4 linked regions of the Homo sapiens genome follow. The protein of the gene in region 4 interacts with the protein of the main gene of each other region in a biochemical or structural test. Each region holds a gene or a part of one and is shown on either strand. Other genes may lie near its edges. The genes, in order: UBA1, RNF7, BTRC and CDC34.

Evidence for each region.
Region 1: of the proteins of CDC34 (region 4) and UBA1, one has a biochemical effect on the other in vitro, tested with the Homo sapiens proteins (7 studies listed by BioGRID, with this or other methods).
Region 2: the proteins of CDC34 (region 4) and RNF7 form a complex in vitro, tested with the Homo sapiens proteins (5 studies listed by BioGRID).
Region 3: the proteins of CDC34 (region 4) and BTRC form a complex in vitro, tested with the Homo sapiens proteins (4 studies listed by BioGRID and IntAct, with this or other methods).

The regions. Positions count from the first base shown.
Region 1 is NC_000023.11:47,189,767-47,196,834, reverse strand, and holds the start of UBA1 (ubiquitin-like modifier-activating enzyme 1), read right to left. Parts: upstream 3,007-7,068; 5' UTR 2,811-3,006; exon of another isoform or gene 403-2,810; coding exon of another isoform or gene 366-402; exon of another isoform or gene 1-365. UniProt on the Homo sapiens protein: Catalyzes the first step in ubiquitin conjugation to mark cellular proteins for degradation through the ubiquitin-proteasome system.
Region 2 is NC_000003.12:141,741,292-141,748,077, forward strand, and holds the end of RNF7 (RING-box protein 2), read left to right. Parts: intron 1-1,352; exon of another isoform or gene 1,353-1,616; intron 1,617-2,217; coding exon 2,218-2,265; exon of another isoform or gene 2,266-2,266; intron 2,267-3,867; coding exon 3,868-3,986; 3' UTR 3,987-6,269; downstream 6,270-6,786. UniProt on the Homo sapiens protein: Catalytic component of multiple cullin-5-RING E3 ubiquitin-protein ligase complexes (ECS complexes), which mediate the ubiquitination and subsequent proteasomal degradation of target proteins.
Region 3 is NC_000010.11:101,350,237-101,357,183, reverse strand, and holds the start of BTRC (F-box/WD repeat-containing protein 1A), read right to left. Parts: upstream 3,020-6,947; 5' UTR 3,004-3,019; coding exon 2,956-3,003; coding exon of another isoform or gene 2,575-2,955; intron 1-2,574. UniProt on the Homo sapiens protein: Substrate recognition component of a SCF (SKP1-CUL1-F-box protein) E3 ubiquitin-protein ligase complex which mediates the ubiquitination and subsequent proteasomal degradation of target proteins. Recognizes and binds to phosphorylated target proteins.
Region 4 is NC_000019.10:526,946-534,780, forward strand, and holds the start of CDC34 (ubiquitin-conjugating enzyme E2 R1), read left to right. Parts: upstream 1-4,814; 5' UTR 4,815-4,986; coding exon 4,987-5,163; intron 5,164-7,835. UniProt on the Homo sapiens protein: E2 ubiquitin-conjugating enzyme that accepts ubiquitin from an E1 ubiquitin-activating protein, and catalyzes its covalent attachment to other proteins by an E3 ubiquitin-protein ligase complex. In vitro catalyzes 'Lys-48'-linked polyubiquitination.

The sequences.
Region 1 (7,068 bases), on a different chromosome or scaffold from region 4:
GTCATTGGTCAGTTTGTTTGGGACATGCCATTTCCTCACTCCATAAATTAGAGATGATCCAGGGCCAGAGAGCACTTTAATATCTGGACATTTCACCTCTGGATCCCCAGTGCAGGCAGCAAGAGTCTAAGAAGTTTCAGATGATTGTTCAAGTGGATTTTGACTGCAAAGGTTTGGAACAGCCCTGTCTCAAGGCAAGCAGGAGTCTGGGACAGAAACTCTGCAGAGGAGCTAAAGATCCCCCACCCCCAGCAGAAAAACAATCTACACCCTTCCTACCTCAACATTTGCTCAGGCCCCCACCATAACATACACACTGTGAACTGTTTGGCAAAGCTGAGCTGTGGCTTAGTTTCTAAACATACCTGAGTCTCCAAACTGAAGATTTTCAAGCGTAAGCATTCTCTATTCCCAAACCAGAGGGTTTGAGGGAGGAGTCTTGGAGGTGTGAGAGGAGGCAGGTTAGCAGGATGGAGAAGCTAGGGCATAGAGAAGGGGGGCTGGAGCATGTCAAGCTTTCTGGGAGGGGTTAACTGAGAAGTCCATGGGAACGTGAGAGGAGAATCAGGAAGTGGGTGTCTAAGAGCAAGGAGGCTCTGAGACAAATGGGAAAGGAGATGTTAGAAGTCCTGGGAGGGAAAGGACTAGGCTAGGGTATTAGGAAAAGACTCAAATTCGGATCTCTGGAAAAGGATCTTTTGGAGAAAGGCTGAAAAATTGCAGTGGAGGCCCCCAAGGCTGCAAGGAGGTAGGAGGACAGTTGCTGGGCCCCATGGAAGCTGCAAAGGGAATGGGTGGGGGATTCTAGAGTCTGAGGAGGCAGCAGGAAGATGTTGGGGTCTGGGGGGAGAGGCAGCCTCCATCAGGAGGATGTTGAGGCTCTGGAGGACTCTGGAGACAGATGCTGGTAGCAGAGAGAAATCTTTAACCAAAAATAATAGATAGGGACATGCAAGAGGAGAGGTGTATCTGACATTCCTACTACAGAGTCCCAGGAGGCTGTGAGGGTGGATGGTGAGGGGCTGGGAGAGGTTTCTAATGGAACACAAAGGCCCTGTGTCAATCTCTGACAGGACATGCTAGGTATCACAGCTGCTCTGAGGGTGTGGAAACGGGAAGCTGGGCCCAGATAGTGCAGGCCTTAAAAAGGTTAATAAGCAAACACTGGCTAGGTCCCCAAATGGGGTTGGGTTTCTCTGACCAATTATGTAGGACCCCATGGAGGCGCTGAAGGTAGATGCTGAGAAGAGGGTTTTCTACTGCAGTAGAAAACAAGAGGGCCATGGCCAGGCGCGGTGGCTCACGCCTGCAATCCCAGCACTTTGGGAGGCCGAGGCAGGTGGATCACCTGAGGTCAGGAGTTCGAGACCAGCCTGGGCAATATGGTGAAACCCCATCTCTACTAAAAATACAAAAAATTAGCCAGGCGTGGTGGTGCATGCCTGTAATCCCAGCTACTCGGGAGGCTGAGGCAGGAGAATCGCTTGAACCCAGGAGGTGGAGGTTGCAGTGAGCTGAGATGGCGCCACTGCACTCCAGCCTGGACGACATAGTGAAACAATTCTGTCTCGGAAAAAAGAAAAAGAAAAAGAAAACAAGAAGGCCTGTGGGGGGAAGGGACATCTGACAATGATCCTGGGGTCCAAGGAGGCTGAAAGCAGAAGCTGAAAACCCCTGACTGCAGACGTTAGGGACCTTGAAACGATCTGAGGGCAGATTCTGAGGCCTGATGTGAGGATAAGGGATCTGTGAAAAAAGCAGCTAGAACCCAGGTTGGTTTTTGAAGGCAGAGGCTGGGTCTAGGGTGGGGTTGGGGAGGCGAGTCTCTGATGGAAGGGGCTAGAAGCCAACGGGATCTGCAAGAGCAGATGCTCGCAGGGGCTCTTTGATGGAGGATTATGTATCCAAACAGTTCCTCCCTGGTATCTGGTGCACTGGAAGGCTCTGGGGGTTCAAGGTGCCTGATGGGGAAGATGCTGAGGCCTCTCAGTAGTCTCTGAATACTGGAAGTATAAAAAGCGAGAAATTCCATAAAAGTAGAGAAAGTGTCAAAGGACAGAGTCTAGGAATTGAAGAGTCTCTCAAGGCAGATGGTAAGAGGGGTCTCTGAGTAGAAATACTGGGCAGAGTCTCTGATGGAAGATGCTAGGGCCAGGGTGGGGTTAGGAGACCTGACGTGTGGCGAAGAGGGGCCCCCGACACAAAGGCCAGGCCCAAATGGCCTTTCACAGGGTCTAGTACCCCTGGAAGCTCTGAGCGCGGCTAGCATGTGTGTGGGATGGGGGTCTGAAGGAAAATGCTAAAGAGGACTCTCTTACAGAGATAAAGGGCCTATGGACCCCTTCGAGATCTAGCCCGTCCTGGAAGCCTTGAGGACAAATACTGAGAAGCTAGGAAGTGTCTCAAAGGAGATTCTGGGGCAGGTCTTTAACGGCATTCAATGGTGAGGAGCTCTGATCAGCAATGCTGATCCACGTAAATCTCTATTGGAGACTGGGGAAGAGTTCTGATCTGAGATACAAGGTTCGGGACGGAGTCAGGTCCCAGACTAGAGATGTTGGGCGTGAGTCTCTAAAAGCACATCCTGGGGGTCCGACTCCAAGGTCAGATTTTGCAACCAGAGGGAGCCGGAGTGGTCCTGGCCGGGGAAAGTCGGCCCCGCCCCAGGATCCGCTCCCCCTCCCTACTCCGCTGATTCCTGGCTCCCGAGTCACCGCGGCCCGCCCCGACAGCAGCGTGGCTCAGGGCCCTCCAGTGCCTCCCCGAAACCCCTGCCCAGGGCGAGGCGCAGTGAAAGGACGTTTTTTTACCAATGCCGGTTCCCCGGGTCGCGCCGCCGCCAACTCCTCAAGGAGCCGAAGCCAAGCCCGGCCGCCACCCTCCTCCTTCTCCTCCTCCCCGCCGCCTGGGCCGCCTAGAATCGCCGCTGCCGCCTTCTCCTCCCCCGGCCGTTGTGGTTGTGGTTGTCCCTGCCACCTCCTTACAGCCGAGCCGCCGACACAAGATGGCGGACGCTGAGCCTGGGGCCGGAACAAAACCTTGGGCCCCACCCCCAGAAACCCGGATGCAAGCGGGCCGCGCCTACTTATGAATCATGCATAAAGTTCCCTACTCGGTTGCGATTCATTCGGTTAGAAGTGGAACAGCACCACCTGGTGGACATTGTGGCAGTAACAACGAAAACAGGTAAAACAGAGGCCACGCCTCATGGAATGCGACTAATGAATGAATTGTTGCAGCCAGGCTGTCAAGGAAGCGAAGAAAAACCGTTAAGGCCATGCTTCCTGATTATAAGTTATGCATGAAGTTGAGTGGTTGGTAGACTAACAACCAGCAACCAGAAAGCAGATGTTAAAACATGGAAGCCACACACCCCCATTCATGAATAATGATGATCTTGCAGGGGCCCGGAAGCCAAGGAGACCCAGGCCACAACTTACTCATGAATAATGCATGAGGCCCAGTGGGTTGGAATAAAAGGGGCACGCCCGCCTATTGCTGCATCTAATACACTGTAAGCAGGGAAATGGGGCTGCTGCAGGGAAAACACACTCTCCCAGGTCCTGAATAATGAATTATGCTGCTGCAGTAGCTCAACCTGGAAACTCAGAGAGGTCAAGAAAGGTTCCACCCAATTTATGAATTATGCATAAGGCGAAGAAACACCCAAGACTGCCCTGCCCAGCAAATAGGGATTACGATGCTATAGCCAAGGCAAAGTGAGCACGCCTTCCTGTTCATGAATAATGAAAGATGTCACTGCAGTGCCACCAGAAAACCCAGGGGACGTGTACTCCCTGCCCCCACCTCCCCTCTCCACGCCTCCCTCCATTCTCCCCGCCTCAGGAACAAGGGCTGCCTTGGTCCAATCAAACCCAAACTCACTACATGTCTTTGGCAGGTGCCTCAGTTTCCACAACTGTAAAATGAGGATAGTAATGTGTTATTATGAAAATCAGATGACGCCTGTAATCCCAGCACTTTAGGAGGCCGAGGCGGGTGGATCACCTGAGGTCAGGAATTGGAGACCAGCCTGGCCAAGATGGTGAAACCCTGTCTCTACTAAAAATACAAAAATTAGCTGGGCATGTTGGCGGGCGCCTGTAATCCCAGCTACTGGGGAGGCTGAGGCAGGAGAATCGCTTGAACTCGGGAAGCAGAGGTTGCAGTCAGCCGAGATCGCGCCATTGCACTCCAGCTTGGGCGACAAGAGAGAAACTCCGTCTCAAACAAAAGAAAATCAGAGAATATAAATTATGGGATGAGCCTTAGAACATTGCTGGCACAAGGCACTGTTAAATTTTTAAAATATTATATATTAATATAAAAGTAATATGTTAAGATATGTAAATATATATTTACATTAATATAAAATTAGTTATGAATACTCAGCCACTAGAGAAACCCCCAACTTGGGCCACTGCTTCCCCATCCATAAAATAGGAATAACAGCAACTTACCTTGCGATGGAGTTTAAATGAAGAAATAAGTAGAAAGGGCTTAGACCAGTGCCTGGCACATGCTAAGTGTTATATTAGTAGTAGTAGTACTATCAAATGGCGGCGCAGGGGAATGGGGAGGGGAGACATTATGGCATCTGGTTAAGACTACAGATTGCGGAACTAGACCCCAATTTGAATCCCGGCCCAGCCACTCACTGATTGTGTGACCTTAGGCAAATTACTTAGCCTTCCTGTGTCCCAGTTTCCTTATCTATAAAGTGGGGGTAATAATGACCTACCTCCTAGGATTGTCGTGAAGATTAAATGCGCTAAGTAGCTAAACGAGTGTAAGCTAATCTTATCGTTATCCTCATACCCATTATTCAGGCTTACAAAACGATTTGCCAAAGATCACACAACTGGAAAGGATCGATGGGATTTGAATCCAGAGCCGGCTGATTATCTGGGATTACCAGGCCATAAGAAATGAACAATGTAGGAGGCCTCATCCCTTTGCTAGACGCCAGGTTTTAACTCTGGTACCTGCAAGGGAAAGCTAACCGCGGATCACGCAGACAAAGCTGCAAAAGCCACGCTCCTCATGAATTAAGCACGGAACCCCTAGAAAAGCCACTGAAAACTCAGGGTGCTACTTAACTTTTGCGAATCATCAATGAACTCGTTTGCGCGGCAGACTTCAGAACGCCCCTTCAGCACGTCCCTTCGGCACGCTGATCCGCCCCTCGTGAATAATTCACAAGCCGAGAACCTTCAGCGGACCAGGTGCGAAAGAGGCAAAAAAACTGCCGCCTACCACAGCCCCACCTTATTATGAATAATGAATAAAGGCCGGGTGGCGCCTCGTCAGCTCAGGAAGAGCTGGGCTCCGGTGTCCCTTCCCTAGCCTGAGCTGGGAGGCTCCTCTCCCTAGAAACATCTGGGCCCCCGACGTGTCCAGTCTCGCAGTCCTGAGCCTCCAGGCGCGGGGAGGACCTCATCACAAAACCAGAGGTCACAAAGGCCTGACACCTCCACAATGCCACGTCGGTCCCGATTGTTCTGTCACCAGGACCCCGTCCTGAAACAAGCCCTCCCCCAGTCCCGCCTTGACTTTAGTAACCTCAAGCTTTGCTTCTCCCCTTGAAGAATAACCCAAATCCTGCTCCACGGACAAGGGTGCCCATACACGGACCCTAAGAATCTCCCCAAAGCCCCCCAAACCCTGCCTCCGAGGGGTGCTCCCCGAAACAGACTCCCAAATCCCACCCCGAAGTCCCCAAACGGCACCCCTTAAGGGTCTCAAAAGCAGACGCCCCCTAAATATCACCCCGGGCCCGGAGGCTCCAAATACGCCCATGAGGGGTTTCCCCGAAGTTGGGATTAGGGAAGCACCCTCCTCCAAATGCTGTCCAGAGGCTTGGGGGCACGGTGCTCCAGCTCACCCCCTGTGCCGGGCGGAAGCCTCGCCTTCCTGCCAAAGATGAGCTGAAGCCACGGGGCAACGGAAGAGCAAACCACCTCTGTCGTACAAGAGAAGCCAGAGTTTGCGCGGAGCTCGGAAGCGCGGGGCCTTGGAGAGCCCCGGGTCTGGGATGTACCACAGATGCTTTGCTAGAGGGGCGTCAGTCCCTGCTCCCGCGTCGCTGGTGCCCGTTTCAGACCCAGATGACCCTACAGGTTGTGGTACGGCCCAAATGCGCGCGGCATGCTGGGGGTGGTAGTTCTGTCTGGCCAGTGCCTGGTGCACGTGGTGGGCACCAGCGTCCAGAATATGGGAAAATGTAAGCCTGAGCTGTGGAATTGCCGGAGCCGTGCTCTGTAGGGTGGGAAGAGGAAACGGAACGTGTGGGTGCCTCCACATGGAAAGGCACACCCATCCTACAGATGGGGAGACCGAGACTCAGGTGGCCAAAAAAGTTCATTTGACATGGGCCAGGTGCTGGAAATTCTTCCTTGGGCTCATGGAGCTGACATTCTAGCAAGATACACAGACCATAAACATAACAATAAGTAAAATTATAGTTTCACATACAAACCCGTATTATAATAGATATCTGTGACTATATACAGTAATATAAATTATGGATATACAATCATGTGCTGCATAACATTTTGGTCAACGGTCCTATAACACAGAAAAAATTTTACTGTTATCTTTTCTATGTTTACATGTTACCATAGTGGAGACGGGATTTCGCCACGTTAGCCAGACTGGACTAGAGCTCCTGAGCTCAGGCGATACCGCCCGCTCGGCCTCCCAAAGTGCTGGGACTATAGGCGCGAGCCGCCGCGCCTGGCAAAATTCTTTAGCCTTTTAATAAATGGAGTCTTGGCCGGGCGCGGCGGCTCACGCCTATAATCCCATCACTTTGGCAGGCTGAGGCAGGATGATTGCTTGAGCCCAGGAGTTCAAGACCAGCCTGGGCAACAAAGTGAGACCCCCCCACGCCCCAACATACACACACACACACCCCACCACCACCACCTGGTCTCCACAAAAAATCAAAGAATTAGCTGGGCATAGTGGGGTGCATCTGTGGTCCCACAGTGAGCCCTGTGGAGGCAGGAAAATAGACAAAGGAGAGGGAGAGGGAGGGTGGAAGAGAGGGTTGTACTATTTTGCATT
Region 2 (6,786 bases), on a different chromosome or scaffold from region 4:
CCCTTGAGACCCAGCCTTGGTCATTTTGGTGTCCCCAGTGCATAACTCCTTGCACAGAGGAGATAGTAATTGTGGGATTGAAGAAAACCTCAGGAGGCAGTGGTTGTTTTTAATCCACACTGAAGAGACTAGGGCAGTGGTGTTTTTTTAAGGGTAAGAGCATGTGGAAAGGAGCAAACAAATGCCTGAGCAGAATCCAGTGTAAGAAGAGAAGCAGGCTTCAACTTAACCGTGTTTCTATTTTTACAGAATTATTTTTCTCCTATTTATGTTAAAAACTATTTTCTGTTGGTTCAAACTTCCTTTTACCCAACTCTGACTCCTCTTCCAGCTAGTGAATGAGTCCATTTTTGCTCCCTAAAATATTCTATATTACTTTTTTCATTAAGCTGATAGTATTCCAGATTGAATTTTGAAAACTTCTAGTACAGCCTTTAGGATCTCATTTTTAGTATTTACACCTACTCCACTATATTAGAAGTTACTATAAGCTCACTGGGCATGCTCATGGGCAGTTTATTTTCAAGGCACCCTTTTAAATAACCCATACATATAATGTTAGTATTTGTTTATATATACATCAAGAAATTCTAGAAGGATACCCAAGAAACCAGTAATAAAGTAATTTATTAAAAGACTTTACCATTGTTGGGTAAATACTTTGGGCTCAGACTTATCTGTATTTTCTTTCTTTCTTTTTTTTTTTAAAAAAACTTTTAGGTTCAGGGCTACAAGTACAGGGTTGTTACATAGATAAACTTGTGTCACAAGGGTTTGTTGCACAGATTATTTCATCACCCAGGTATTGAGCCTAGTACCCATTAGTTATTTTTCCTGATCCTCTCCACCTTCCACCCTCCAAAAGGCCCCAGTGTGTGTTGTTCCCTGCTATGTGGCCATGTGTTCTCATCATTTAGCTCTCAAGCATTTTCTTTTTTTTTTTTTTTTTTTTTGAGACGGAGTCTCGCTCTTTCGCCCAGGCTGGAGTGCAGTGGCGCTATCTCGGCTCACTGCAAGCTCTGCCTCCTGGGTTCACGCCATTCTCCTGCCTCAGCCTCCCGAGTAGCTGGGACTACAGGCGCCCACCACCACGCCCGGCTAATTTTTTGTATTTTTAGTAGAGACGGGGTTTCACCATGTTAGCCAGGATGGTCTCCATCTCCTGACCTCGTGATCCGCCCGCCTCAGCCTCCCAAAGTGCTGGGATTACAGGCGAGCATTTTCTTACAAAGAAAAAACCTTAGTGTTTAGGGATATCTAGTATTTACTTATTTTATCTGTAAAATTCTCACCAGTTTGTATCATCCCCACTTAATATATAAATACCTCACAGTATTGTCCCTTTTTTACAGATGAGGGAATTGGAGTTCGTAATTGGTCCGAGGCCCTGAACCTAATAAATGCCAGTGAAATGGGATTTGACTGTAGATCTGGCTCCACAGCCCTCGCTGTCCCCTCTGTCTCACTGGCTTCTCACCAGCCTTGTCTGGATGACCATCGGTAGCAACCTATTGGAAGCATACAAAGCAGTTTATTTTAGAGGAACTCTCAAGTGTCTTAGGGTAGAAAGTAAAAAGTTGCTTCTTATGAGTTGCTAAAGGAAGGCTTCTGTGTCAGTAAGTATGGATGACTTTAAAAAACTTGTTTATGAAGCAATTTTTTAATTTAATTTTTTATAAGTTATATATTCATATAGTTCAGAAATTGAGGAAGTTATGTATATTACCTGGAAGAGTGAAAACTCTCCTTCCCATTCCAAACCCTCCCAGTAAACTTTATTATTGGTTCCTTGGGTATCCTAGTGTTTCTTGATGTATGTATAAACAAATGCTAACATATATATATGGTTTATTTAAAGGGTGTCTTGAAAATAAACTGTCCATGAGCATGCCCAGTAAGCGTATGGTAACTTTGAATATAGTGGAGTATGGCATATTTTTCTCTAGTAGTTTTCTCTCTTGGCACCGTCAGGACATCTTTTCATCAGAGCTTATAAAAATAGAGGATTTGTTAACCCTTGTGAAATTGCTCCTGGTTATAATTAGTAGAATGCCTTGTACTTTATTCCTCTTTAAGTAGTTATGTTCAGATGAGAAATTAATAGTATGAGTCTTTATTGCCATCCCTAACCCTTAGGGCTTTTGACTTTGAAGTGTCTGGTTTTTAAAAATTGCATTCTGAGCATCAGAATGAGAATCGCTATTTGTTTACTTTTAGATGCCTGTCTTAGATGTCAAGCTGAAAACAAACAAGAGGACTGTGTTGGTATGTTGTAATTTTGTTCTCTTGCTTTTTCAACTGAAGGTTTTCTCTCAGTAGGGATGTTTGAATTTGAAATTAAGATTGACTTTATCAATACACAAAAATAAACTGTAAAGCAGTGATCCATTGTTAATATAAAATATGTTGGTTCTCAAAAGAGTTTAATGGAATGAACCTGCAAGTCCTTTTATTGCCATAATTAAGAAGAATTGGTTATATATTCCAGACATGGTCATAATAAACATTTTGGTAATCAAAAATTAAATATTTTCTATTAAGAAAATTATAAAATCAGAAATTTGTCAAAACATTATTTGAATTTTGGCTATGTTATAGGTCACTTTTGGTTCTAATAAGGCATTTCACTTTTCAATACTCTTATAATACAGTATTTAACTTTAAAACCAGAGTAGAAAAATTCTAAGTCTCAAGTATATTTTTGGAATGTGGTTTGTGTATCAAATTTTCTTTAGAGTCTTAGACTACAAAAGTTGTCGTAGGCTAAATATTTTAGGCAGTTCAAAGATTTTTATGCCCTAGTTCTTGAGGTGATCAAGTCTAGATTGCTATATAAACATGTTTATAGATTTTCTTAGAATAAAAGATTGGCTTTGTATTTTGTGTTTGCATGGTGTACGTAGAACACAAATACATGGTGTACATAGAACTTCTTAATATTGATTCTTGCAGTTTTGATCCAGTTCTTCCTCCTGAAACGCTTAGAATGTTTCACCCTTGCTTCCTACCCCCTGTAGCCAATTTTCATAGGCATTTTTTTCTTTTTTTCTGCCTTATTTCTTTCATTTAATCTTTTTCTCTGCCTTATTTCTTTCATTTAATCTTTTTCTCTTGTCATATAGCTCAGTTGATCAAGCAAGGGACAGATGAATCCCAAATTCGAGATTGCATTCTAGATTGTGGATGATTTCCCTTGTTTTAAAGTTTTTCTTTCATGCTGCTTGTTTAAAAAGTATTAATTTGGGAATTGTGAGGGGCAGGCCACTTTCTTTGATCACAGAGAGACCTCTCTCTCCAGCCAGCCACTTTGAAAATTTCATCGTCACATGAGGAATTGCACTGCTTATGGGTGACTTAACACAATTCATCACTTCTAGAAAACAGCTCAGCTCAGATGCACAACTGAATGTTTAGAAGCATGTTATTTATAATAGCCTACTGCATACTAAAAACATTTACAACTCATTCTGTCTTGGTAAATAAAAATTGGAAGGACATTTTCCCATAAAATAAAGCCCAGAAGATCTCTAAGGTCAGTGCATGACTGAGAAGGTCAGATCTAAGGAAGGTTCAAGAACATTCATCTAACTTCAAGAAGACAGCATGTGGAGCTGTGTAGGAACTAGGGGTCATCACATCACCCATAGATTCTAGAACAGTGATGGAAAGGCTCTCAAACAGTGACTTATGTCTCTGTGTAACTTACACATTTAAGTTTCTGTTTCTTTATAGATAGAAAAACATTATTTTGGCCAATTAACTATCTTTTTTCAAGATTATTATTTGTAATATAAAATAAGCTATAATTTTGAGTTCAGTGTTTAAATTGAAATATGTAATGTCAACTCTTCTTTTTCTTTCTTTCAGTGGTCTGGGGAGAATGTAATCATTCCTTCCACAACTGCTGCATGTCCCTGTGGGTGAAACAGAACAATCGCTGCCCTCTCTGCCAGCAGGACTGGGTGGTCCAAAGAATCGGCAAATGAGAGTGGTTAGAAGGCTTCTTAGCGCAGTTGTTCAGAGCCCTGGTGGATCTTGTAATCCAGTGCCCTACAAAGGCTAGAACACTACAGGGGATGAATTCTTCAAATAGGAGCCGATGGATCTGTGGTCCTTTGGGACTCATCAAAGCCTTGGTTTAGCATTTTGTCAGTTTTATCTTCAGAAATTCTCTGCGATTAAGAAGATAATTTATTAAAGGTGGTCCTTCCTACCTCTGTGGTGTGTGTCGCGCACACAGCTTAGAAGTGCTATAAAAAAGGAAAGAGCTCCAAATTGAATCACCTTTATAATTTACCCATTTCTATACAACAGGCAGTGGAAGCAGTTTCAGAGAACTTTTTGCATGCTTATGGTTGATCAGTTAAAAAAGAATGTTACAGTAACAAATAAAGTGCAGTTTAAAACCCAACTCTTACTCTTAATTTGTTCCTAATACGTATTTTTGGCAGGGAGAGGGAACGGTCCATGAAATCTTTATGTGATATAAGGATTTTAAGTTTGGGCCAGTGAACAGGGTAAATAAAATTTAACTTTTGAGCATATGGAATTTTGATTGCCTTTAAAGTTACTATTCTGTATCATTGATTCATCAAGAAAACCTAGATCTGCACTCACCTCACTGTTCAATCATTGAGTGGTAAAGGACAGAAGTATTTTCTAGTTCTGGTCAGATGATATAATTTTTTTTTTTTTTTTTTGTGGGGGTGAAGTCTTGCTCTGCCACCCAGGCTGGAGTGCAGTGGCATGATGTCAACTCACTGCAACCTCCGCCTCCCGGGTTCAAGTGATTCTCCTGCCTCAGCCTCCCGAGTAGCTGGGATTACAGGTGTGTGCCACCACACCCGGCTAATTTTTGTATTTTTAGTAGAGACGGGATTTCCCCATGTTGGCCAGGCTGGTCTCAAACTCCTGACCTCAGGTGATTCGCCCACCTCAGCCTCCCAAAGTGCTGGGATTACAGGTGTGGGCCACTGCACCTGGCCCAGATGATATAATTTAACTGTGTTTTAGGTAACATGTTAATGAGGGAAAATGTTTACCAGTGTAGCATTGGATCAAAAAGTTTATCACACAGTGTTTTAATAAATGGTTTATTCTGCTTACCTTATTTGAATTGTCATTATAATTTTATATGCAACCTTAATTTGTCAAGTAAATACTTTCATTTAATTTGAAAGAATTCATATTCATTTGCTCTTTCATTTGACAATAATAAAATTTAAGGTTTATTACCTGGAAAGAGTGCAAGAAAATACTAAACAACTTTATCAAACTGATTCACACTGAGGGGAGGTTATTTTGTAACAAATAATGGACCACAAGTTCATTTTGTATTCTTCTGTAGTAGAGGCTACTGATATGAATTTAAGAAAAAACCTTAGAATCTTAACTTTTCACATCTGCAGATGCAGTGTGCCATTCTGAATTTTTCAATCTAAGGGATGTGGATACATAGAATGTTTAAAAAGATAACAATTAGAATGAAAAATTAAAATTATGTATGCTTTTATATGGGTTACTTTTTATTGATCACATTTCTCTGGAAATTTTTCTTTATATTTTTTCACAGTTGTCTTTCTAGCTACTGAAAAAATTATACAAATATCTTTGGCCATTTAAATGTTTATCATTGTGCAGTGAACTGTTTTAGTAACTTTCTGTTTGACCTTTTTAGAAGGTTGCATCCTTAAAATGTGAACCAGATACATGGCTTTGCATTGAAGAGGAAAGCAGTAGAATGTCAGGTTACTTTAGGCAGTGTGACAGTATATAAATGAAATGTGGAGGATGGTGGTAACAATTTGATTTTCCACACAGCAAAACCACAGTCCCGCCACCTAACAAAGCCCTGTTTATGCCACACACCAGCATCTGAGGGAAGAGGAGGCACTGTGACAAAGCAGCGCTGATGCTGCTCAGCCTGCGATGATTACAGCTCATCTGCACAGCCATCTGAAAGTTTAATACATACTCATCAGAGGGAACATGCCGGGACAATTTTGGGTTCCAATACAAAAGTTAAGCATCAAACAGGTTTTTCTTTCCATTTGATTAAATGTGCTGATTTTATTTTACTGTTGCATTAGAAACAAACAAGTTATCTTTCGCTATTTAATTTTCCCTCTATGCAAATTGTGTTATTACAGCTGACCGCTATCAGTAAATCTTAATTCTGTCAGTCCCATTGCTTCCTTTTTTATAAAAATACTGTGTCCCCCTTTACTGTCATGAAGTGAAATTCATAAATATATTTCCTACACATATAATTTAAATGTATGTAATTGTTATATGACAGAACTAAAAAGAACTTGTAATTCAGTTGTATTTCAATATAGAAATGCTTGGACATGGATGGGCACGTTGGCTCACGCTGTAATCCAAGCACTTTGGGAGGCCAAGGTGGGTGGATTGCCTGAGGTCAGGTGTTCGAGACCAGCCTAGCCAACACGGTGAAGTCCTGTCTCTAACAAAAATTGGCCGGGTGTGGTAGCAGGTGCCTGTAATCCCAGCTACTCGGGAGGCTGAGGCAGTAGAATCGCTTGAACCCACGAGGCAGAGATTGCAGTGAGCCGAGATCGCACCACTGCACTCCAGCCTGGGCAATGAGCGAAACTCTGTCTCAAAAAAAAAAAAAGAAATACGAAAAAGCAGCACTTTGCTGCTTTTTAAGTTATTGCCATGGAGCCAGGCATGGTGGTGCACACACTAGTCTCAGCTACTCTGAAGGCTGAGGCGGGAGGATTGCTTGAGCCTAGAAGTTTGAGGCTGCAGTATACAGATCAT
Region 3 (6,947 bases), on a different chromosome or scaffold from region 4:
GGCATGAGCCACCACGCCTGGCCAATATCTTCCTTTTTTGTTTGTTTGTTTTTTTGAGACGGAGTCTTGCTCTGTCGCCCAGGCTGGAGTGCAGTGGCGCGATCTTGGCTCACTGCAAGCTCCACCTCCCGGGTTCACGCCATTCTCCTGCCTCAGCCTCCCGAGTAGCTGGGACTACAGGCGCACGCTGCCACACCCGCCTAATTTTTTGTATTTTTAGAGAGACGGAGTTTCACCATGTTAGCCAGGATGGTCTCGATCTCCTGACCTCGTGATCCGCCTGCCTCGGCCTCCCAAAGTCCTGGATTACAGGCATGAGCCACCGCACCCGGCCTATCTTCCTTTCTTAAAACTGACTCTGAATAAACAGACATGTTATAGCAGGGTAAATGGCACCAAAGGGAAGTTGTGACTTACTCAGATTCATAAGACTGTTACTGCACTGAAAGAGAATACCCAATCTCAAACTCTCCATTCTCTGTTTCTTTTATTAAGGTGTCATTCTGGTGACCCTCTTCTAGTTGACCTTTTCTCAAATGGCAGCCAAAACAGCAGGCAAGGTCAATAATGAAAGTAACTAAAATTAAAAGAAAAAATTGGCTTCTCCCTATGAAAACTGATTCAAGATTTAATAATGTGTGGTGCTCTAAAAGCTGCAACTACTATATGGTCATCTCCAAGTCCACTTTAACTCAACCAGGGAGGCCATTATCAAAACATAACTCACTGGTACAAAGCAGAGATTAAGTAGCTGAGAATGTTACTAGGCTGAAGTCTAACTGAGAGTAAAAAGGATGATCTCATAATGTCTCTTTATGATCTGTAAATCACATTATTCCATAAATCTGACACAAATGTCAGGATTAGGATTAAGAGTCAACCCTCTGCTGGGCGCTGTGGCTCACACCTGAAATCCCAGCACTTTGGGAGGCCAAGGTGGGCGGATCACGAGGTCAGGAGATGAGACCATCCTGGCCAACATAGTGAAACCCCGACTCTACTAAAAATAAAAAATTAGATGGGCGTGGTGGCCCACACCTGTAGTTCTAGCTACTCGGGAGGCTGAGGCAGGAGAATCGCTTGAACCCAGGAGGCGGAGGCTGCACCACTGCACTCCAGCCTGGGCGACAAAGCAAGACTCCATCTCAAAAGAAGAAAAAAAGGAGTCAACCCTCTAAGTAGGAAAACAAAAATAAGCAGTAACAGTTTTCTAACTTAAGTGTAGTAACTTTCACTTACTTCTAAAGTCCAGTAAAAGTTCAAGGTCTCTTCTTCATATTTAGAATTTTAATGTTGGGCAGAAATCCAAGAACCTTCTTCAGGCTCAATGAAATTTTGTTAATGATACCCCTGAATTTTAATTAGGTGTTTTCGAAAACACTAATGCAAGATAAAGTTTTAGTGAATTTGACTAGATTCCAAAAAAGTATTCTTATAAATGGGGCAGTTTAAAGTCTAAAATTCAATTTTGTTAGTATCCATGTTTATCTGGATTTGTTACGGTATTTTAGGCAAAGATACAAAATAGCTATTTTTTTAAGCAAAGGAGTAAGATTTGGAGTGACAAGTCACAATAACTTCTGAAAAAGCAAGACTGGACTGCAAATAATATCAATGTCCCTAAGGCCACCTGTTAAGCTTAAAATCTATGCATTCCATCATTCTTTAGTTGTAACCACAAAGTCTGGTTTTACACCTAGGAAATACAAAAAGCATCAGATTAAAAGCATCAAATATCAGACTATACGAGTTTGCCAAAGATAAGCACAGCAAAAAGAAAAGCGTGATACAAAGTTAAAGAAATATGTTCCAAGGGGTTTAAGCACACCCACAAAATCCAATCTTTGCTCACACTGTGCTTCAACCTAAAACTGACGGGTAACCACAAATCCTGACTTATCCCTGACTTACTTCCCTCTACCAACCTCCACCCTTTTTATCTCCTAAATTTCTCAACTGATCTCATCACTTCTTATGGGTCTTTGCAACTCTCATCTCCACGGCCTTTCCTTTCCCAGAAAATGATACAAAGCACCTGGCCTCCACATTTTACCGTCCCACAATTTACCTTTAAATTTTGTTTTGCTTACCCTATTAGATACTCATTTTGCCCCAATCTCCTGTACCCATGTTTCCCTGACAATCTGCTCTTACTTTTCATCACCTTGTCCTTATTACAGTATTTAGCTTCTCCTTTCAAAGTAGCGTTATGTACCCCTCCCTGACATTTGTAATTCTAGCTTACAGTCAACACCCTTTTCCCCTCCCAGGGACTGTCATTATAGCCCTAGGTCCTCATTCCCAGTCCTTATCTTCTTTAGTGAGGCCTCTTCCCTTCCAGAGTTTGTCAACAGTAGTTTGGCCAAGCTGGGATTCCACCCTCAAGGCAAAGGCTATCCTCCCTCCTCATTCTACAAAACTATAAGCCTCTCACCAGCCCTAGCGTTCCCTCCTCCACCCTTAAATCCATCTGCATCCAGCCCTGCCCGTTCCCCTCTACCCACCGTATCTGTCTTCACTCTATCCCGCGCTCCCTTCCCCAGTCGTGAATGCACCTCCTCTCCCGGGCCTTACCGGTAACCCTGACACCAGGAAGGCCCCGCCAGCGGCCTCACGGCGTTTCTCCAGAGAGCTTCCTCCGCTTTTCAGTAACAGTCCCCACGCCCCTTTCCCTCCAGGGCCCCGCGCGCCGCCTGGAGCCCCCTCCTCGATTAAGCTCCCGCTGTCACTTGGCCTCTCATCCACAAGATGGCGGAGCCGCTGCCCCCACCCCTGGGTCCGCTCCGCAACCCCCAGCCTCCTTTCTGGAGCTCCCATCCCATCCCTCCAGCCGCTCCGCCGCCAGCCTCGGCCCAGGGTCCCGCTGCCCGGTCCCGCAGTGGGCGGGCGGCCCAGGCCAGCGACGCCGCCAACGCCAGCGCCTCCACCGTTCCCCGGCCTCCACCGTCTCCTCACCATAAACTTGAGTGCCTTCTCTTGCAGCACCGCCTCGGCCGGGTCCATAATCGCCGAGGCCACTGGGTCCGCTCTCCGCCGGGGCCGCCCCTTTGGTGCCAGGCCGCAGCCAACGCAGCGCCCGGATCCCGCCTCCTCTTCCTTCCCCCCGCCCTCTCTTACCTCTCAGGCGCAGGCTGAGGGGCCAAGGAGAATCGGCTTCTCCGTGCGCAGGCGAAAGCCCACTGGCTCACGGGATTTGTAGTTCTGGAACTTCCCCCAGGAAAAAAACTGAGGCTACGCCGTGAACCGCAACTCCCACAGTTCACTGCGGCAGCGTTGCGGTTGCCCACAAGCCAGATTTAGATAAGTTGCCATTACGCAGAGGAAATCGGCTGATGGGAATTGTAGTTTACAGCCTCTAAGGATGAGAAACGGGAGGGGCACGGGTGTCTCCGTGGTTACCGAGCGACGCCAGTAGCGGCTTGCCTGGCATTTGATATCAAGATGGCGGCCAATGCCTCACTTGTAGCCCAAATACTAAGAAAAACTGTGGCAAGAATCACGGGTCCTAGGACCTGCCTAACTGTGGTTTTAGGAAGCTGAACGTCCCCAAATTTCATGTATCTGGCATCTGCAGGTTTGCGACCCAGAGTAGCTGGGCCAATGGGCACCTGGCAGCAGCTCACAGACAAATGCGGAATTTCAAGGTCCTCCTAAGCCATCGCCACCCACACTTCTCCCGAGGAATCTTTTCTCCCCCACAGCAAGTCAGGGCCGAATAGAACTCGGTTCAAGAAATTCTCAGTGTTTAGAGCTCAAAAAGCACATAACTTGCTATTGCTAACTGTGGGATGTAAGCCCTGCACTAAGGGTCAAACAGGTACTTAACAAAAGTCCTTCAACGGTGGAATATAATGGCCTCCAGCAAATAAAGCATATAAATATTTTCTTTGGCCTGAAAAGGTACAATATGGGTTTATTTTGGAAATTGGGTCTACCTTAGGAGGAGAAAACTCTAGGGTTTGGTTAAAAGTGATTTAGGTTGTTTTAAGCTGCTATGTTTGTGATAATTGGTTATACAGCCTAAAAAACTGACACACACCCAAATGCCCCTCAGCAGGTGGTTGTATGAACAAATTGTAGCATATTCCATATGTAGCACAGTGGAATATTACTTAGCAATGAAAAAGAACAGTATAACAACAACAACAACAACAAAAGTGATTTAGGGCCAGGCGCGGTGACTGACGCTTGTAATCCCAGCACTGTGGGAGGCTAAGGCGGGTGGATCACCTGAGGTCAGGAGTTCGAGACGAGCCTGGCCAACATGGAGAAACCCCCGTCTCTACTAAAAATACAAAAATTAGTCGGGCCTGGTGGCACGCGCCTGTAATTCAAGCTACTCGGCAGGCTGAGGCATGAGAATTGCTTGAACCCGGGAGGCGGAAGTTGCAGTGAGCCGAGATCACGCTACTGCACTCCAGGCTGGGCAACAGAACGAGACTCTGTCTAAAAAAAAAAAAAAAAAAAAGTGAGTTAGATTGTGACAGCCTTGTACAAAATATCTGAATTTATAAAATAAATGAACTAGGAAAATACTTTTTGACTTATAGGAAAAAATCTCCATTTTAAACTATCTTATTCACTCAGTCATCCAACAAATGGTAAGCATATAACCGTGTGCAGACATCATCTCAAGAAATAGGGATTCATCACTACTTGGGTGGCTAAAATATCAGACTTCACCACTATAATTCATCTATATAACCAAAAACCACTTGTACCCCAAAAACTATTGAAATAAAAATAAAAGTAATTAATTAAACAAAAAGAAAAAGGAATGGGGATTCATTAATGAACAAGACAGACCCAGTTATTTCCTCGTGGAGCTTACACTTTTACTCTGTTGATACTTTGTCCTAGCCCCTATATCCACAAAACTCAGCATGATACTTAATACATAATAGGCTTTCAGTTAATAAAAAGTTTTGTTCTTGAATTTTTAAAAAAATTCTACACAAGTGCAAAATGGAGAAGACTTCAAACGCATTCGTATGAAAACTAGCTGGAGGTTTTCAGAGGACTAAGGCAGTAACAGGATGGAGTTACAAAAAAAATAAATAAATAAATAAATGAAAAGATAAGGTGGGATGATGGTGCAGCCACTGGAAAAGAGTATTCCAGGCAAAGGTAACTGCATTTTTGGTGATTGATTCTGAGAACCAAAACAAGATCAGTGGGACTTTAGAGGAAGAGTGGCCCTAGATGAGACTGCAGAAGAGTATGGGGCTCTATAGGCAAGCCATTATTTAGCCGGCATAAACTGGTCAGATAAATCAGCTGACATGCTTTCTAAACTGGCATCAGGGCCTGTACCTTACCAGATATAAAATACCTTGACTTTCACTCCAGCTTATAGGCCAAGTTCAGTCATTTAGACTGTATCCTGAGAGCTGTGAGAAACTAGCTGAACAATTTAAAAAATGGTCAGATTTGCATTTTCAGAAAATCACTCAGAGTCCAGGGTGGAGGAGAGATTAAAATGGAGCACAGCTGGAAGCTTGGGGAAAGGATTATGAGGTTGCTGAAATATTCCTGGGAGAGATGATGGCAGCCTGAATGTGGTGGTGAGAACAGAAAGAAGTAGATGGATTCCAGAGATACTAAGAAGATAGAATCAGTGGAGTATGGTGATTGATTAGATGTGTCATGGATGATGTCAAAAGGATGTGTCAAAGATGACTTCTATGTATCTGGCTCAGGTAATGAATGAGGGATGCCATATATATGTATTTTTTTCTTTTTTTTGACAGAAAGCACAGTAGAAGTGGTAGGAGGATAATCAGTTCTCTTTTTGGACATATTGCTTCAAGGTGCCTGTGAGATTTCTAAGTGGATTCAGATGTTGAGGAGGCCATTGGAGATTTGAAACTGAAGTTGGAGGGAAAGACCTGGGCTACAAATAGGGATTCCAGCATGTAGGTGGTAAATGAAACTCCACTCCCGCTTCTTCCCCCGAAAAGAATGAAATCATCCAGGGAGCTGGGCATGGTGACTCACACTGGAAATCCCAGCACTTTGGGAGGCTGAGGCAGGTGGATTACCTGAGGTCAGGAGTTCGAGACCAGCCTAGCCAACATGGTGAAACCCCATCTCTATGAAAAATACAAAATTAGCTGGGTGGGGTGGTGCTCACCTGTAGTCCTAGTTACTCAGGAGGCTGATGCAGGAGAATCGCTTGAACCCAGAAGGTGGAGGTTGCAGTGAGCCGAGATCACACCACTGCACTCCAGCCTGGGTGGCAGAGCAAGACTCTGTCTCAAAAAAATAAATAAATAAAATAAAGAAAGAAAAGAAATCACCCAGGGAAAGCATAAACAGTGGAAAGAGCAACAGGACTAGGACAGGGTCCTAAAGAACTGTAAGATTTATAGGACGAGCACAGGAAGAGGAGCCTACAAAGTAGCCCAAGAAGTGACCAGAGAGGTAGCAGGAAAGTCTGGTGAGTGAGGATCATGAAGGGGTTAGGGGGTGCAGATGCCACACTGCAGCCTGTTGAAGAGGGAGGTGAGGATATGAAGACTGCTGAGTCTCTTCTTTACAAAACGTGGCTATCTAGGGAAGGAGAGAAAAGCTAGCACAGTGGTGGGATGTAGAAGTTGAGAGTCTAAGGAAAGCATTGTTTTGTCTGAAAGAAGGAAGATTTTAGTTCAAAGGAAATTGAAGAAGCATGGCAACTAAATGCAATGAATGATCCCTGATTGGACACAGGAACAACACACATACACTGACACTGATACACAGCAGAGAAAACAGCTATAAAAGGCATTAATAGGGCCAGGTGCAGTGGCTTACACACAGGTGTGGGAAGCCAAGGCAGGAGGATCTCTTGAGCCCAGAAGTTCAAGACCAGGTTGGCAACCTGGCAAGACCTTGTCTCTCTCTCTCTTTTTTGAGACTGAGTCGCGCTCTGTTGCCCAGGCTGGAGTACAGTGGTGCGATCTCGGCTC
Region 4 (7,835 bases):
AGCAGCAAGATGCCATCGTGTAAGAGTCTCAGTGACATCTTGGGCTCCACAGGAAGACCTTTGTACAACTATCTTATCTAACCCACTTTCAAATTAAAAAACTGAAAGTCGGGCTGGGCGCGGTGGCTCATGCCTGTCATCCCAGCAGTTTCAGAGGCCGAGGCAGGCGGATCACCTGAGGTCAGGAGTTCGAGACCAGCCTGGCCAACATGGCGAAACCCCGTCACTACTAAAACTACAAAAATTAGCCGAGTATGGTGGCGCACCTGTAATCCCAGCTACTCGGGAGGCTGAGGCAGGAGAATTGCTTGAACCCAGGAGGCAGAGATTGCAATGAGCCAAGATCGTGTCACTGCACTCCAGCCTGGGCAACAGAGTGAGACTCTGTCTCAAAATAAAATAATAAAATAAAATAAAAAACTGAAACTCATAGGCCAGGCACGGTGGCTCATGTCTGTAATCCCAGCACTTTGGGAGGCCAAGGAGGGTGGATCACATGAGGTCAGGAGTTCCAGACCAGCCTGGCCAACATGGTGAAACCCCATCTCTACTAAAAATATAAAAATTAGCTGGCATGGTGGCACAAGTCACCCACTTGGGAGGCTGAGGCAGGAGGATCACTTGAACCCGGGAAGCAAAGGATGCAGTGAGAAGAGATGGAGCCACTGCGCTCCAGCCTGGGTGACAGAGCAAGACGCCATCTCAAAAAAAAAATAATTAAATAAATAAATTAATTAAATAAACCTGAGACTGGGTTTAATGTTTGAGCGATATTTCCAAGGTCGTGGCAGAAACTAGATTTGAATTTAAGGTTCTTCTCTGCCATGTGATGGAAAACCTAACTCAAACTGGCTTAATTAACGAAGAAGGAATTTATTTTTACTTATTTATTTATTTTTGAGATGGAGTTTCACTCTTGTTGCCCAGGCTGGAGTGCAATGGCGTGATCTTGACTCACCACAACCTCCGCCTCCCAGGTTCAAGCGATTCTTGGGCCTCACCCTCCCGAGCAGCTGGAATTATAGGCATGTGCCACCACGCCCGGCTAATTTTGTATTTTTAGTAGAGACAGGGTTTCTCCATGTTGGTCAGGCTGGTCTGGAACTCCTGACCTCAGGTGATCCACCCTCCTCGGCCTCCCAAAGTGCTGGGATTACAGGTGTGAGCCACGGCGCCCGGCACGAAGAAGGAATTTAACCTGGTTGTGGTGGTGTGCACGTGTGGTCCCAGCTACCTGGGAGGCTGAGGTGGGAGGACTGTTTGAGCCCAGGAGTTCAAGGCCAGCCTGAGCAACAGGAACGGGGGCAGGGAGGGAGGAAAGGAAAATAAACTAAAAAGGCTGGGCGTGGTGGCTCACGCCTGTAATTCCAGTACTTTAAGAGGCCAAGGCAGGAGGATCACTTGAGGCTGAGAGATCGAGACCAGCCTGGCCAACATGGTAAAACCCCATCTCTACTAAAAATTCAAAAATTAGCTGGGTGTGACAGTGCACGCTTGTGATCCTAGCTACTTCGGAGACAGGTGGGAGGATTGCTTAAGCCTGGGAGGCAGAGGTTGCAATGAGCTGAGATTGCGCCACTGGACTCCAGCTTGGGTGACACAGAGAGACTCCATCTCAACACAAACGAACTAAGAGGCAAGAATTCATGAGCTTGCATCATTGGAACATCCAGGGGAGGTCAGGTAACAGCATGATGCAGGATCACTAATAGGATTATCAACGTTTCCCCTCTCATCAGCCGGCTCGGCTTTCCTGTGATGCCGCCTTTGTTCGGAGGCCCCGTGGTGACACCATGACCCCGTAACTCCAGCCCCAGGTCCTTCCAGCTCAGCCACCCCAGCACTGTGATCCCAGAGAAATGTCCCAGAGCTGAATCTCATTGGACGTCAGGAGTCACATGCTTGTTCCTGAACCAATCATTGCAGCCCAGGGTGGGGGCCCTGGGAACTGATGGGATGGCCCCTCCCTGCAGCCAGGGCTTGCGTCAGTCCAATTCGAACCCGTTCCCACAGAGTAGGGAGCCCCCAAGCAGGCAGGTGGAAGCCCCTGGTGTCCACCGCTCCCGGGTGCTGTGAGCCTGAGCCTCCCTGGGGGTCGGGGCCCTGTGGGACCAGCTGGAGGGGCTTGAAAATCTCCCCAACCCAGGCCGGGCGCGGTGGCTCACGCCTGTAATCCCAACACTTTGGGAGGCCGAGGCGGGCGGATCACGAAGTCAGGAGATCAAGACCATCCTGGCTAACACGGTGAAACCGCTTCTCTACTAAAAATACAAAAAATTAGCAGGGCGTGGTGGCATGCGTCTGTAGTCCCAGCTACTCAGGAGGCTGAGGCAGGAGAATCACTTGAACCCGGGAGGTGGAGGTTGCAGGGAGCCAAGATCGTGCCACTGCACTCCAGCCTGGGCGACAGAGCAAGACTCCTTCTCAAAAAAAAAAAAAAAAAAAAAAAGCGAGAGAAAGAAAACCTCCCTCACCCACACAGTGCTTCCTGGGATGTGGGTGTACGGAAGAAGAGAGATCTTGGGAGCCCTTAGAGAAGGAATCGTGGTTAATTCTAATTAGCATTAATTTACCCATGAGCTGCTGCCTGCCGGCTCCATGATGCTGGCAATATATCCACGACCTGTGGCACGGAAGAGACTGAGGCTCACAAAACCCTGGGAACCTTGGTGAAGGGGCCACAGCCAGAAGGCCCCACTAGTCCCGAGACCCTCCTTTTACTCCAGGCCCCCAGGGTGCCGGGCAGAGGGGCCTGAGGGAGGAGGCCCAGAGGCCCTTACGGGTGAGGACGCCTCGGCCTCGGCCCTGGACAGCTCTGGAAGTGACCGCTCGGCCCAGAGCTCTTTCTTGGATCCCTCCCTCCCTCTCCACTCCTGATGCTGTTTTCCTTTCCCCAGACAGGTTTGCCTGCTGGTCCTCTTCCGGGGACCAGACTCATGAAGCCGGGGCCAGGTGTTGGGGCACCTGCGGGACAGAGTGGCCCTGGTCCCAGACTGGTTTTTGTTTTTGGTTTTTTTTTTTTTTGAGACGGAGTCTCTGTCGCCCAGGCTGGAGCGCAGTGGCGCTATCTAGACTCACTGCAAGCTCCGCCTCCCGGGCTCACGCCATTCTCCTGCCTCAGCCTCCCGAGTAGCTGGGACTACGGGCGCCCGCCACCACGCCCAGATAATTTTTTGTATTTTTAGTAGAGACGGGGTTTCACCATATTAGCCACAATGGTCTCGATCTCCTGACATTGTGATCCGCCCGCCTCGGCCCCCCAAAGTGTTGGGATCACAGGCGTGAGCCACCGTGCCCGGCCTGTATGTTGATGCAGCTGTGTGTACCCAGGGCATAGCAACAATGCCACTGGCACAGTCCGAGGGCAGGGCCACCCGTCACGGGCACGACTCAGGGGAGGCTGGGCTGCCCCGTCCTCACCACGGCCAGTTCTCCCGACCAAGCTTCACAGCAAGGAGCATGTGGGTGTCTGGGCAGCCACTGAGCCAGGTCAGAAGTCAGGTGGGGTCACAGTGATGCCCGGAATCAGCTGGGGTCAAGACTCAGGTGGGCTGGGCGCGGTGGCTCATGCCTATAATCCCAGCATTTGGGAGGCCGACGCAGACGGATCCCTTTATTAGTCCAAACTGCATCCTCCCCTTCCTTTCAAAACCTAACAACACACTTGAGGTCAGGGGTTCGAGACCAGCCTGGCCAACATGGTGAAACCCCATCTCTACTTAAAATACAAAATTAGCCGGACGTGGTGGCGGGCACCTGTAATCTCAGCTACTCGGGAGGCTGAGGCGGACACTAGCTTGAACCCGGGAGGCGGAGGTTGCAGTGAGATTGTGCCACTGCACTCCAGCCTGGGCCACAGAACGAGACTCTGTCTCATTTAAAAAAAAAAAAAAAAAAAAGACTCGGGTAGGACAAAGGTCAGGCTGGGAGGAGGGCACAGCCAGGCTCGGGCTCAGCTTGGGGTGGGGGCTCCGTGGGGCTGGCGCCTCTCCCGGGTCAGGTGCTGAGCCGATGCTGGCCGGCGTAGGCCTCTTTCCCAGTTTCTCTGGGGGGCAGGAGCACCTTGCCAACCTCTGATGGCTCCAGCGCCTGCACTCGCCTCACACCACATGGTGACTTCAACGGGGACCAGGGAAGCCCTCGCCCCTCCCACCCCTCAGAGCCCTCCCCGACCTCGCCCACTTCTCAGAGCTCCCGCTGTCGGGGGAACCGAGGCAGCGCCGCGCCTGGAAGCCAGGTCTGCGGATCCCGCCTCGCTCCCGCCCCTTCCTCCCTTCCGCGTGGCCAGCGCGACCCTAGGACAGACTTCGCGCCCGTCCCCTGCACAGACGGGGAAACGGAGACGGGGACGCGGGGTCGCGCCGGATGGACCGGCCCTGCCCCTCCGGTCCCGGTCAGGACCCCGCGCCGCGCCCCGTTCACCGCCCGCGGCCCCGCCCCGCGCCGGCACGTCACAAAACAACCCCAAAGCCGGGGGACCGGGCCGGTGACGGCGCAGAGCAGCCCTGCCCGCCTCCTTGCGCACAGCGTCCGCGGTGCTGGTCGAGCAGGGGGCGACGGCGGCGGCCTCGGGGATCGGAAGAGCCCGGGGCTGCGCGCTCGAACCCTCCCTCCCGGCGGAGGCGCTCGGCGCCGTAGGCGGGACCGGGGCCGGGACTCCACCTCCCGGCGTCCCCTGCGGCCGGGCGCGCAGGCGCAAGTCGGACCTGGCCGCGGAGCGCAGGCGCAGTCGGGGCCAGGCGGTGCGCGCAGGCGCAGCGGGGGGCGGGGCGCGCGGGCCCGGCCAAGGCAAGCGCCGGTGGGGCGGCGGCGCCAGAGCTGCTGGAGCGCTCGGGGTCCCCGGGCGGCGGCGGCGGCGCAGAGGAGGAGGCAGGCGGCGGCCCCGGTGGCTCCCCCCCGGACGGTGCGCGGCCCGGCCCGTCTCGCGAACTCGCGGTGGTCGCGCGGCCCCGCGCTGCTCCGACCCCGGGCCCCTCCGCCGCCGCCATGGCTCGGCCGCTAGTGCCCAGCTCGCAGAAGGCGCTGCTGCTGGAGCTCAAGGGGCTGCAGGAAGAGCCGGTCGAGGGATTCCGCGTGACACTGGTGGACGAGGGCGATCTATACAACTGGGAGGTGGCCATCTTCGGGCCCCCCAACACCTACTACGAGGGCGGCTACTTCAAGGTGAGCGCGGCGACCCCCGCCCGGGTCCCGGAGCCCACGAGCGACCTCGGGCGCCGGGAACCAGCTCCCTGCCCCGCGGTCCTAGCGCTGTTGCTGGGCGGGCCCCGAAGCCTCCTGGCTTGGGCTCGTTTCCCTTCTATGGCCACGTTCCCCCACCCAGCTCTGCCCGGCCCCCTCCTCGGACCGTCTCGGGGACCTTCAGCCTCTGCTGCAGTCCTCGAAAATCCCCAGTTCCCTTCAAGGCATCGTCCGGTCCCCTGTTAGGCTCTTGGCCCCCGGAGGGGTGGCCGGGGGCCCTCCCTGTAGCATCTGGGCGTGGGGCTCTTGCCCACCTCCTCCTTGGCGGGGGCTGGACCCCGGCTGCCTCCCCCTCCGCCCCTGCGAGAAAGAGGGAGCGGAGCCCAGGCCGCGCCGGCCTTTCAGCTGCCCTCCCCGCCCTCCCCGGAGGAGACAAAGAGGCCCCCCCAGACCCCGTAGCTGCTATTGTTGGGGAGCTGGGCCCGTGAGCGGGGGAGCGAGGCCAGCCTGGGGGTGGCTGGCGCGGCCACTCGCTCAGTCTCCAACAAAGGCCCGGATGAGCCTTGGCAGCCAGGACCCGCCTGGAAAGCGGCCACCCTTGCCAGTAGCAGCCGGCCAGGCGCCCTGGGCTCCATCCCCTGCTTTATGTAACCTGCGCCCTCGGGAAGGCCGAAGTAGGGGCGTGCCTCCCACCTGCTCCCTGCAGCTCTCTCCAGGCCTCCCGGCTCGGGCCCGCGTCCCGGACCCCGACCTCAGAAGCTCCGGGCTCGCTCATCCCAGCTGGTCTTGGCCTTTCTCAGAGTCCACTGAACAGGTGGCTTCTTGGGACCCAAACCCCGAGTTCTGGGCCGTTTCTTCTGCCCTCTGGCGGTTTAATTCCAAGCAGTTTCTGGATGTTTTTGTTGTTGTTGGGAGCGGGGAGGCTGTTTCTGTCTCATGTGAAAAGGACTCAGGCCAAAACCAGGGCAGTTTTCTTGATCTCACGATCCAGACGTGACCTTTGACTTCTTTTAGCGTTCAGGGACCTCGTTCTTGGGGCCAGAGGGACAAAGCGAGGGGCCCTGTGTGAGCGGTGGGGAACGAGCACCCTGTCCAGGAATCTCCCCCTCCCACCGTCACTTCCTGCCAAGAGCCTGGACACGACACGACACTGCAGGGCCCGGCCCGCTCTGCCCCGGCCAGCTGCGGGCGTGGGGCCGAGGGACCGATGCCTCCCGCACGATATGTGTCTGCTCTCCGAGCTAATTAGTGTCTGAACCGCACCCGCTCAGCGGCTGTGAGGGCAGCAGCCTGGTCTGCTGGGGGCGATTCCTGAGCAGAGAGTGGGACGCCCGTGGGTTCTGCATCTGGAATCCTGCGTCCCCACACAGGGAACAGAGTTTGGGTCTCGAGGTTGCCAAATGGTTTTAGCAGCTCCTCCGCCAGCCCCTTCTGTCTGCTTGGGGGAGCAGCTGGCTGAGGAGCCGCAGCCCCACCTCGAAGCCAGGCCTGTGAGGCGGCTGCTGTTCTGGAAGGAGGGGATGGGGGTTTCTGGCTGCTGTGCCCACCAGACCGGTTGCCAGGGATTGTGGGCAGAGCTTCCTGGGCCAGCATTAGGGGATAATCCGGTTTTCCGGATTTCCCAGGGAGGGGGCCTCTAGACATCTGCCACAGGGTCAGTCCTCAGAAGCCAGTGTTGAGACGGGGGTGCTGCCACCCACGAGGACTCTCCCTTCCCGCTGTGCCTGGGAGGGAGTTGGGGGAGCGTGGAAATACAGAACCTGCTGAGTGCCCAGGGCCGCTGCTGCCCAGCCACTGCCTGCAGCTGCTGTTCCTTCAGGAGCCAAAGTGAGCCCTGGGGCAGGGGCCGCCAGAGAGAGCCCTCCACAGCCGACTTGCTGTCTGCCCTTGGCAGGGCGCTTTCCTTTTCTGAGCCTGGGTTTGCTCCGGGGAAAAGACATTCTTAGAGGTGCCCAAAATAAGAGGCTCATTGGGACTTGGTGGGGTTTGGTACAGATGAGGCCTTGGCTGTTGTCAAGGATTGCCGCCTGAAACCCAGCACCAGGCTTGGGGGGCCTGAAGTCTTGGGGAACCGCAGGACAGTTCTGAGACTGAAGTTCCAGCCTTGCTCTGTGGCCGCGGCCAAGTCACTTGCCTTACGGGGCACCAGTGAGTTCCCTGTCAAACAGAGGACACCCCCCAAGACACCCCGCGTGCCCTCCCTGTCCAGGAGGGGCCCGTCCACGATCCAAGACCCCCAAAGTGCCCTGCCTGTCCGGGAGGGGCCTCGCCCACAATCCAAGACCCCCGAGTACCCTCCCTGTCCAGACCTCGCCCACGATCCAAGACCCCCTGAGTGCCCTCCCTGTCCAGACCTCACCCACGATCCAAGACCCCCTGAGTGCCCTCCCTGTCCAGACCTCGCCCACAATCCAAGACCCCCGAGTACCCTCCCTGTCAAGGCCTCGCCCACGATCCAAGACCCCCGAGTGCCCGCCCTGTCCAGACCTCGCCCACGATCCAAGACCCCCGAGTGCCCTCCCTGTCCAGACCTCGCCCACGATCCAAGACCCCCGAGTGCCCTCCCTGTCCAGACCTCGCCCACGATCCAAGACCCCCGAGTGCCCTCCCTGTCCAGACCTCGCCCACGATCCAAGACCCCCGAGTGCCCTCCC